Linked DNA regions of Homo sapiens: region 2 is linked to region 1. A link means that fine-mapping ties the variant in region 1 to the expression of a gene that starts in the linked region. Tissue or cell type: Th1 cells. Region 1 holds a variant in brackets; the other region holds the start of a gene. All regions are shown on one strand. Distances are from middle to middle.

What was found. PIP is the estimated chance that this variant, and not a neighbour inherited with it, causes the effect.
Region 2: it holds the start of VIM-AS1, and the variant in region 1 is fine-mapped to the expression of VIM-AS1 in Th1 cells (Schmiedel 2018, PIP 0.95).

Annotation. Positions count from the first base shown.
Region 1 is chr10:17,277,260-17,282,410 of GRCh38, reverse strand. No RefSeq gene overlaps it. Among named protein-coding and RNA genes, the nearest start is that of VIM-AS1, 50 kb to the right of the region's middle. The variant C/T (reference allele first, on the strand shown) is at 2,899.
Region 2 is chr10:17,227,795-17,232,945 of GRCh38, reverse strand. VIM-AS1 (VIM antisense RNA 1) reads left to right here and starts at 2,961. Exons shown (of 3, transcript NR_108061.1): 1 at 2,961-3,601. It overlaps VIM (vimentin), which reads right to left and starts at 4,705. Exons shown (of 10, transcript NM_003380.5): 1 at 4,422-4,705; 2 at 2,961-3,670; 3 at 2,236-2,296. The coding sequence starts at 3,523. RefSeq lists a silencer at 2,797-2,976 and an enhancer at 3,287-3,376.

The DNA.
Region 1 (5,151 bases):
ACATTTGGCCCCTCGTTACTTATGCAAATTTCTGCAGCTGGCTTGAATTTCTCCCCAGAAAATAGATTTTTCTTTTCTCTTGTATTGTCAGGCTGCAAATTTTCCAAACTTTTATGTTCTGTCACCTCTTGAATGCTTTGCTGTTTAAGAATTTCTTCTGTCAGATACCCTAAGTCATCTCTGTCAAGTTCAAAGTTCCACAGATCTCTAGTGCAGGGGCAAAATGCTGCCAGTCTCTTTGCTAAAGCATAGCGAGGGTCACCTTTATTCCAGTTCCCAACAAGTTCCTCATCTTCATCTGAGACCACCTCAGCCTGGACTTCATTGTTCACATCACTATCAGCATTTTGGTCAAAACCATTTAACAAGTCTTTAGGAAGTTCCAAACTTTCCCACATCTTCCTTTCTTCTTCTGAGCCCTCCAAATTGTTCCAATCTCTGCCTGTTACCCCATTTCCAAAGTTATTCCACATTTTCAGGTAGCTTTCTAGCAGCACTCCACTTCCGGTACCAATTTACACTGCTATGAAGAAATGGGTAATTTATAAAGGAAAGAGGTTTAATCGATTCACAGTTTATTATGGCTGGGGAGGTCTCCGGAGACTTACAATCATGGCAGAAGGCAAAGGAGAAGCAGACACCTTCACAGGGCAGCAGGACGGAATGAGAACAAGCAGGGGAAATGCCAGATGCTGATAAAACCATCAGATCATATGAGACTCACTCATTATCACAAGAACAGCATGGGGGAAACCACCTCTATGATCCAATTACGTCCACTTGGTCCATCCTTGACACATGGGGATTACAATTCAAGATGAGATTTTGAGTGGGGATACAGCCTAACCATATGACTATCTGTCTTCCTATCCATATATCTATCATCCATCAAATCATCTATGATTTATCAGTCTTCCTCTCTATCTCCCTATCTATCATCTATTTATCTTCCTATGTATTTATCTATCTAAACATCTATCTATATCTATGTCTATCCTCTATCTTCCTATCTCTCTAACTATCTATTAAATCATCTATTTATCTCTCTGTTTATCAAATCATCTATTCTCTCTCTCTCTCTGCCATTGGTTCTGTTCCTTGGAGAACCCTGACTAATACAAACACACATTAATTAAAATTAAGACTCAAAAATATGTGAAACAGAGAGGCAAAACCATCTCTGATATCTTGTCACATGACACTATTTAATTTTGGAGACCTGCTTTTCATATATTTCTTTATATCCATACACATATAGAATGATGCATAGATATTGATATTGTTTGGCTCTTCATCCCCACCCAAATCTCATGTTGAATTGTAATCCCCACATGTCAGGGGAGGGGCCTGGTGGAGGTGATTGAATCATGGTGGCAGATTTCTCCCGTGCTGTTCTTGTGATAGTGAGGTGTTCTCACGAGATCTGATGGTTTAAAAGTGTGGCACTTCCCCCCTCAGTCTCTCTCTCTTCCTACCATGTAAGAAGTGCCTTTCTTCCCCTTCACCTTCCACCATGATTGTGTTTCCTGAGGCCTCCCCAGCAATATGGAACTGTGAGTCAGCTAAACCTCTTTTTTTATAAATTACCCAGTCTCAGAGAGTTTTTTTTACAGCAATGTGAAAATGGGCTAACAGAGATACCATACATATTTTTTAATCTTGGGTCTCTCTCTCTCTCTCTTTCCTTCCCAAACATTGGCATTACTACCATCTCTCTCCACCACCAGAAGAAGCAGGGTACCTTGTGTACCAAGCTACTGAGCATCCTTCTGGACCTTCCTTCATGCTTTTGTACAAGCATAAACACAGACACAATGTGATTTAACTTTTTTTTTTACTAAAATGAAATCATATTATGGAAATTCCTCCATATCTTAGCTTTCTCACTTAATAATACATTGAAAAATTCTTCTGATTTGATCTATTTAGATCTAACTCATTTTAAAATTTTATTTTATAAATTTATTTAAAGTTTTTTAAATTCTTAGTAGGGGTGGGATCTCACTATGTTGCCTGGGCTGCTCTTGAACTCCTGGCCTTAATTATCTTCCTGCCTCAACCTCCCAAAGTGCTGGGATTACAGGCATGAGCCACCATGCCTGGCCATAACTCATTTTTAATAGCTGAACAATTGTACATGGTATGGAGGTATTAATATGTTTTCAGCCATTTTCCTATTGATTGGCATTTTCTTTTCTAAAAATCTCTACAATATTGCTGTAAAATCTCCCTGATCATATATTCCTATAGATTGTTGTGTTTATTTTATTTCCATGGGATGGATCCCTAGAACTTGCTAAAACAAATTACATACACACACACACACACACAACTTGAATTTTAATGGATATTATTGGATTGTTTCTCAATAGGTTGTGACAATTCATACTTCCACCACCAAATATAAGAGAATCTTTTTTTCCTGTGGGCCTCCAGCCATAAGCATCTGTAATTCCCCCTTGTAATTGCCAATATTATGGGGCACAATGATGTCTATTGTTTTAATGTGCATTTCCTTGCCTACCAGGGCAATTAACATATTTTTGCCCTAGTAGTTGTTGCAGATACTATCAGCGTTCTGTCAGGTCCTCTCACTCTTACCTTTTCTGTGAATGCCTGCTGGACTTCCAGCTGCCAACACCTGCATCTCCTTGCTAGAGGGCTTTCCTCAGCTGTGACAATATCTTATACTGCTGTCTTTCTTAATTGTAGATCTTCCATTATCTTGTCCATCCCTTCTATGGTAATTTGTTTATTCATGGTTGTTCCTTCCTCTGGGATCAATAGTGGCAGCTTATATTTTGCTAAAAAAATACACATTTCCTCCAGGTTTTGACCTTTATTTCTACGCATTGTCCTAGGATATTCTTAAAACTATTTTAATGCCTTCCTTATCTA[C/T]GGTCATGTTTTCTTTCTCATTCCTAAGCTTGTATATTTCTGTCCTCTTTAATTCTTGATTAAACTCATGAAAGTTTGTCTATTTTATTGGTCCTTTGGAAGAACTGGCTTTGGGATATATTTAACCTATTATTACATTTTATTTTTTTGTTATCTTAATTCCTTCTTGTGCTACTTTTTGTTTTTTTATTTCTAATTTCTTAAACCAAGCATTGAATTTTTAAAAAAATTTATTGTTTCTTCTATAATCGTGGAGACATTTGTGCAGAAGGTGCTAACTGCAGGTCTGGCTGCTAAACTCCACATGTTCCCAAAAAAGGCCTGCCTTTACGATCAGCCCTAGCTGGCTCCTGGGAGCTGAGCTCTGAGATGTTGAAATATTCTGCAGGATCAGAGAGTTTTGCATGACTGAGGCCTGGGGCTACCTGGTACTAGTTTAGTCAGATTGTTTATGCTAACAATGTGATTTATGGTGATGCTTATTTTTGCTATTTTTGCTCTGAGAGGCTGAGGGCAATCATGCATGTACTACGTCTATGTTACTGACTCTGCCAATAAAAACCGTGGACACCAAGCCTCAGGTGAGTTTCCCTGGCTGGCAATATTTTGCATGTATAGTCACACATTCTTGCTGGGAGAATTAAATGCACCTGTGTTTCTCTACTGGGAGAGGACATCTGGAAGTTGGCACTTGGTTTCTCCTGGACTTTGCTCCATGACCCTTGGCATTTTGCTGATTTTAATCTGCATCTTTCCCTGCAATAAAGTGTAATTGTGAGCACAACGGCTTTTATGACTCCTCTGAGTCCTACTAGTATATTGACAAGCCTGAGGGTGGTCTTGGGGACCCCCAACACAGCTTTCAAGGTTGTAATCTCCCAATGAGTATAGTTGTCATTGTGTACCAGATGCTTTTATTATTATTATTATTTGAGATAAATTCCTTCCTCTGTTGCCCAGGCTAGAGTACAGTGGCGTGGTCTTGGCTCACTGCAGCCTCCACCTCCTGGGTTCAAGCGATTCTCCTACCTCAGCCTCCCAAGTAGCTGAGATTACAGGTGCGCACCATCACACCCAGCTAATTTTTGTATTTTTAGTGGAGATGGGTTTTCACCATGTTGGCCAGGCTGGTCTCAAACTCCTGACCTCAAGTGATCTGCCTGCCTCGACCTCCCAAAGTGCTGGGATTACAGGCAGGAGCCACCATGCCCGGCCTGTGTGCCAGAGGTTTTAGAATGTAGTGGCCTTCCTTTCACTGGTCTACCTATAGTTGATGATTTTATTTTGACTTTTCTCTTCTATCAAAGATTTAAGTAGAAGTGGATTTATTATTTTCTGAGTAATAGAGGCATAGTTTTATTTTTTGCTTAACTGTATCAGATTATGATCAAGGAATGTGGTCTCTTAAAATTTCTTCTTTTGAAAATGTGTTAGTTTTTTTCTTTGTTTGAACAATTAGCTTCATAATTAAATACTGTTTCTTGACTATTACATGAAAGCAAGATAGAATTCCTATATACTTCAGATACTCTATTTCCCTATTGCTTTTATTCATACACCAGAAAGAAGATAAATTTAGACTACTTTTAATTTTACTTAACTCACTCCCATCCCCTCAAGGCCTAGCTTTTCCTAAATTTATAACTTTTAGTACAAGGCTGTTGTTAGTATTTCACTCACAGTGCATGGAAGAAAGAGGCTTTGTACTCTATATGGATCAGATCTGTCAGAGGCAGCTTAAATCACTTCTATACTGTTGGGAATAGAACTGGTAAGGGAAGAAAAAGCTCTCTAAAAAATAGGAGAACAGGCACAGTGTGGTGGATTCATTATCACAAGGCCAGAAAGTTCACATCCTGAGTGGTAGGTTACTTATCACAAAACTGATGAGTTAATTTACAGCTGAAGTGAAGAAAATCAATTTCCCATAACAAACGTTTTCAAGCTTTGTGGTTAAACCATTATATTTACAGGCCTTGTTGTCAAACACTTACATTCCTCAGGAATTCCTGTTGTTGTTTTTTTCTTATAACTATCAGTAAATTTAGGGACAGTACCTCTAACTGAGCTAGCACACGGTTTGTTCTCCCAGACCATGAATGCTTTTAGTTTCTAGCACTGTTTGTTTGTTTAGAGTGCTCTCGTGGCCACCAGGAAATAAATATTCTTTATCTTTTTTTTGTTATCTTGCTAATGTCAGAAGTAAGAGCTCAGGGTCACAAAGAAAATGAGCAGTAAAACAAAGAATTTCTC
Region 2 (5,151 bases), 49 kb after region 1:
TAATTTAATTACTTTTTAAATCTAGAAAATCTATGCCACAACATTTTTAAGATTTGTTTTGTAATTTCATGGAATAACATGATGATAGAGGTGGACAAATTTTCACAACTTCATGTACACTTGAGTACATGGAGAACAGAAACTTGTGCTTCAAGAGTTTTAGCTTTTCTTCTCCACTCAAATCTTTTGAAACTTATCCTTAGGCTCCAAAGCAAATATGTAGTCATCTGGCATCCATTGTACAAGGCTAGATTTATATTCAATAACCCAATTCAGGATATGCATGCCAAAGATTCAGTTCAGGAAAAAATGGAAAAGAAATGTAACTCTGAACTGTATTTGCTTGGCTTTCTCTGGTGGATTTTTCTTCTAAAACTCCTTTGACTCATCCTGTAAAGGCATGTCTTTTTCACTTGCCACTGTATCAGTTCAGTTAGCCTGTTTCAGAATGACTGGTCAAGCTTGCAAAGAATGAAACTACATAAAGGATTTTTGCTGATTCAGCCGTCCTTCTATATTTCCATTTAAAAAGCTCAGCATTCCAAATCAGAATATGTAATCTTGCAACTAAGATTTTATTTCCTCTCAAAAGGATGCGTGAGGATTGCTTATCTTGTCAGCAATTATATTTGGAGTTCATAGCCTTACGGTCTTAAACTGTTGAGACTTTTCTATCACCTTAGTGGAAAAATGAATGAAGAGTGGGTGACAAAAAGATCAGACTTGATGAAAACATTGATTTTTACTTGTTAAGCCCTGAAAAATACATAAAAGATATTTTACTAACCTCCAAAGAAAGATCAATGTGGTATTCTATCACATTGAAGAGAATGAGGAATTTTGCTTAATCTCGAAACAGAGGATCTTTTGTATTGATGTTGTTTTATGTTAACTCACTACACTGCAGAAAACATGACAGGTATGATAATCAAAAATGCTCAAGGACTAAAATGAACCACACACATTGCTGTGGTTAAATTAATTTGGTAAATGTATTTCAGTTTCAAAATGTTATACTACACTATTCATCTGAGAGTGCTTTGCAGTTAATCCCAGTAAATATTCCAGGGAATACAACTATAAACTATAATGGGGATCTTCTGGCTTTTGGATTCCAATTTTAAGTTAAAAATTCTGTAAGTCCATCTAATTTTGGTGAAAAAAAAAAAAAACACGCACAAAAACCCTTTAGTTAAAATTCAGTTTTTCAGCCTTGGGTTTATTACTGTTATTATTTTTTATGGCAAGAGTGCTAAAGAACACAAGAACCCAATCAAGAAAGGACTTTTAAAATGTGAGGTATGCTTGTAGCTTTAAAAACTTTTTACATTACCTACTTCTCAAGTCTGGGCCAGATATTAGATAACGGATGTTAGCAAATACTTGTGTCCAATTAGAACCGTGCTTACATCATTACATATTCAGTAAGAATGTAGCCTGTTGCAAAGCTTCCCTGGGAATACAAAGACTCCTATTATTTCTGTCCAGAGCCACCACATTTGCCAGAATGTCTGTATCTACATTCCATAGTGAAGCCCATAGAAACCATTAATACCCCTTAGCCAAGGGGACAGATGGCTCCTTTTCACCCTTATTAGATCACAAAATAGTTGTGCATAGTGATACTTCCATCGAACTTTAATGACACAATAGAATTTGCAAAGAAGAAAAGAAACTTGCTGGCTCCATTCCAGTTGGAAACTAAGTTTTCTTATCTTCCAACACGTTTTCCATTTTAAACTGCAGGGCATAATTGCGCTTTTTGTGGCCTTGTAAAAATTAAGCAACTTGACTTTGGCAAACCACAATCTAAAATTGTAACCGTTCGAAACCAGAAGGTCAATGTGTTGCAAAACTGTGCAACATTTGGGAAACAAAGTAAAAAGTTAAAAGATTTTTCTTTATGTCCCAAGGAACTGCTTAGAAATCATTCAAGGATCGCTTGAACCCGGGAGGCGGAGGATGCAGTGAGCCAAGATCTCGCCACTGCACTCCAGCCTGGGCGACAGAGTAAGACTCCGTCTCAAAAAAAAAAAAAAAATCGCTCAAGGGGTTTTATTAATATTTTTCTAATCATGAGAAGCTCCAACCTGTGGTCTTCCCGCCACTAGAGGGCTTTACGCGCAGCCCTGAAGTTTTGCACTTTTTAGACGTGAGTTAAGCAACTTTTAGAATTGCTCGTGGGTTGTGTTGGGTGGGGTCAGGCGGCTGCGAGTGGGAAGAGAGTCTACAAACCTGTCTGAAAGATTGCAGGGTGTTTTCGGCTTCCTCTCTCTGAAGCATCTCCTCCTGCAATCTGAAACAGTTGCGCATTAACCAAAGGGGAACGAGGAAACCGCCAGGGGCGGGGCGGCCACACCCAAACACCACGTATTCGCTCTGCGCCTCCAGAGCAGCTGCGCCACCTCCGCGCAACTAGCGCCTGCAGCTTTCAGACCTGCTGCCCTCGGCAGGTTTCAGCGGGACTTCGGGCACCGCGCAGAGGGGCAATCACGGTGGCCGCACAGACCTACAGGACAGCCCCGCCATCCCCGCCCCCGAGGGACCATCCCTTTGTCTCGCTCCCTCCACCGCCTTCCCCTCCTTCCTTCTCCCGCCCGGTGATTGGCAGCCTGCCAGAAGGGGCAGGAAACTTTCTGAAAGTTTGGAGGACTGGCTCTCATTGTGCCCAAGGGCCTTCAACTGCACACAAAGTGGTAGTTTTAAGAAATCTGTAACTTGAAACGGAGCGTCCTTGGGCAATGTGTGGGGACAGAGGAGGAAATGCGAACTGCAAGGTCTGGGTTCTGGGCGGGGCTGCGCCACCACAGCCACAGCCCCGCTCTCCGCTGTCTCCCTGGCAGGCCTCCCCCCGGCCACATCCCCAAGGGCGTGGCAGCTCTCGCGGGGGCCGGGGGGGCGTTCCCCTCTCCCTCCAGCCCCCTCCCGAGGCCCAGCTACTTGCATGGGCGCAGCCTTACTTCTCCCGGAGGCGCATGATGTCCTCGGCCAGGTTGTCGCGCTCCACCTCGACGCGGGCTTTGTCGTTGGTTAGCTGGTCCACCTGCCGGCGCAGCTCCCGCATCTCCTCCTCGTAGAGGTCCCCCAGGCGCGACTTGCCTTGGCCCTTGAGCTGCTCGAGCTCGGCCAGCAGGATCTTATTCTGCTGCTCCAGGAAGCGCACCTTGTCGATGTAGTTGGCGAAGCGGTCATTCAGCTCCTGCAGCTCCACCTTCTCGTTGGTGCGGGTGTTCTTGAACTCGGTGTTGATGGCGTCGGCCAGCGAGAAGTCCACCGAGTCCTGCAGGAGCCGCACCCCGGGCACGCTGCTCCGCAGGCGCACGGCAGAGGAGCGCGTGGCATACACGCCGCCCGGGGACGAGGCGTAGAGGCTGCGGCTGGTGCTGGGGCGCAGCGCGCTGCCCAGGCTGTAGGTGCGGGTGGACGTAGTCACGTAGCTCCGGCTGGAGCTCGGCCGGCTCGCGGTGCCCGGGCCGCCGAACATCCTGCGGTAGGAGGACGAGGACACGGACCTGGTGGACATGGCTGCGGAGGGTGGCGATGGCCTGGGCGGCGGCGGTGGCGCGGACTGGCTCCCGGAGAAGAGGCGAACGAGGGCGCGGTGGGTGTGGGTGGTGGGAGCGCGGCTGCGTCTCTGGCGCGGGGACCTCGGAGCGAGAGTGGCAGAGGACTGGACCCCGCCGAGGGCGCTGTTTTTATAACCCCGTTAGGAAAGAGGGTCCCCTCCCACTGCCATCCCAGCCGCGGAGCGCGCCAGCCAATAGGGACCTAGCGAGAAGCGGGGAGGGTGGGCGGGTGGGGTGGGGGCGCCCTCGAGCCTTCCTGCTCCGGGGCCTGGGACTGGGCATGGTCCCGTTACTTCAGCGCTGGGCTGGGACTTTTGGGGGCTTTCCGGATGATAGTCTGAGCTGGGCTCACCCTGGGGTGCTGAAAAAGGCGGGGTCGCGCGGTGAGGGGGGGGTCCGCCTGGGACTGAACCAGAGGGGTCCGGTGGCACCACGCCAAAGGGGCGTGGGAGGAGGTGCGCGGCGGTCTCGGGGCTGCGGTCAGGCGGGGAGACCCGCGGGCAAAGGAGCGGGAAGAGGAAAGAGTAAGGAATCCCTCAGATCTGAAGTCGCGGAGAAAGAAACAAAGAGCGCCTGAGATTGGAACGCGGGGTGGGGGCGCGCACAGCGCAGGAACGCAGGGCTCAGGCCTCGCCGCAGCCTCGCGCGCCGCCCGCTTGGAAAGGGGGGCTGCTCCGGCCCGCGCCTCTGTCCATCGACTTGCCTTGGCGGAGAGATGTTGGGGGGAGGGGAGGTTCTGTCGAGGGACCTAACGGGCTCAGTCCAGCTTCGGACGGCGGGAGTTGCGAGACGGCGGTGGCAGAGGAAAGCCCGAGGGAGAGGGGTGGGGTCGCTTAGTCACCGGCGGTGACTCACCGCGCCCTGCTGTCCCGCCGATTGAGGGCTCCTAGCGGTTTAGGGGAAACCGTTAGACCAGATTGATTCAAGTCTCAGCGGGCTCCGCGCGCGCTGCTAGTTCTCAGTGCTACCAACTTACAGCTGGGCCATCGCCTTGCTGTGTGCGGTCGGGCCCTGTGGGGGACAAGAGCGCCCCTAAGTTTTTAATAACTCGCTAAAGCCTGTCTTTGCTCGAATGTGCGGACTTTTTGTTAGCAAGAAACTTCTGCAGCCTTTGGAGAGGCGCCATACGTGGGCCTCCCAGATCACGATTGCACCGGGAAGGTTTTTCTTGCAGAGTCCCCGCCCCCGTCCCTCTGGTCTCCTCTCGCTCTTCCCCCTCCCCCCATGAAACCACACCCAACTTTTTAAACAAGATCTGAAAATTCTGGGTGAAAGAGGAAACTCGACGTCCGTAGTTTCAAAATAGAACTCAGTGATCAGTGGTTTTTACCCTGGTGGAAGTCATTAAAGGTATAATATGAGCCAGTTAAAGAATTAATTAGGTGTTGCTTAAAAACCCCAATTTGATTAATGAGTTCAAATGAAAGGCAATTATGTAACACAAATGACAGAATCTTTGGCGGCAATAGATTTATGTGTTAATTTTAGGACAGCAATGCACAGTACAGGGTTCACGGTGATTTGTCTGGGAAATGCCATAGGTCCTGTTTTCCAAAAGAATTCGTGCAATTGACCTTGGGGTGAG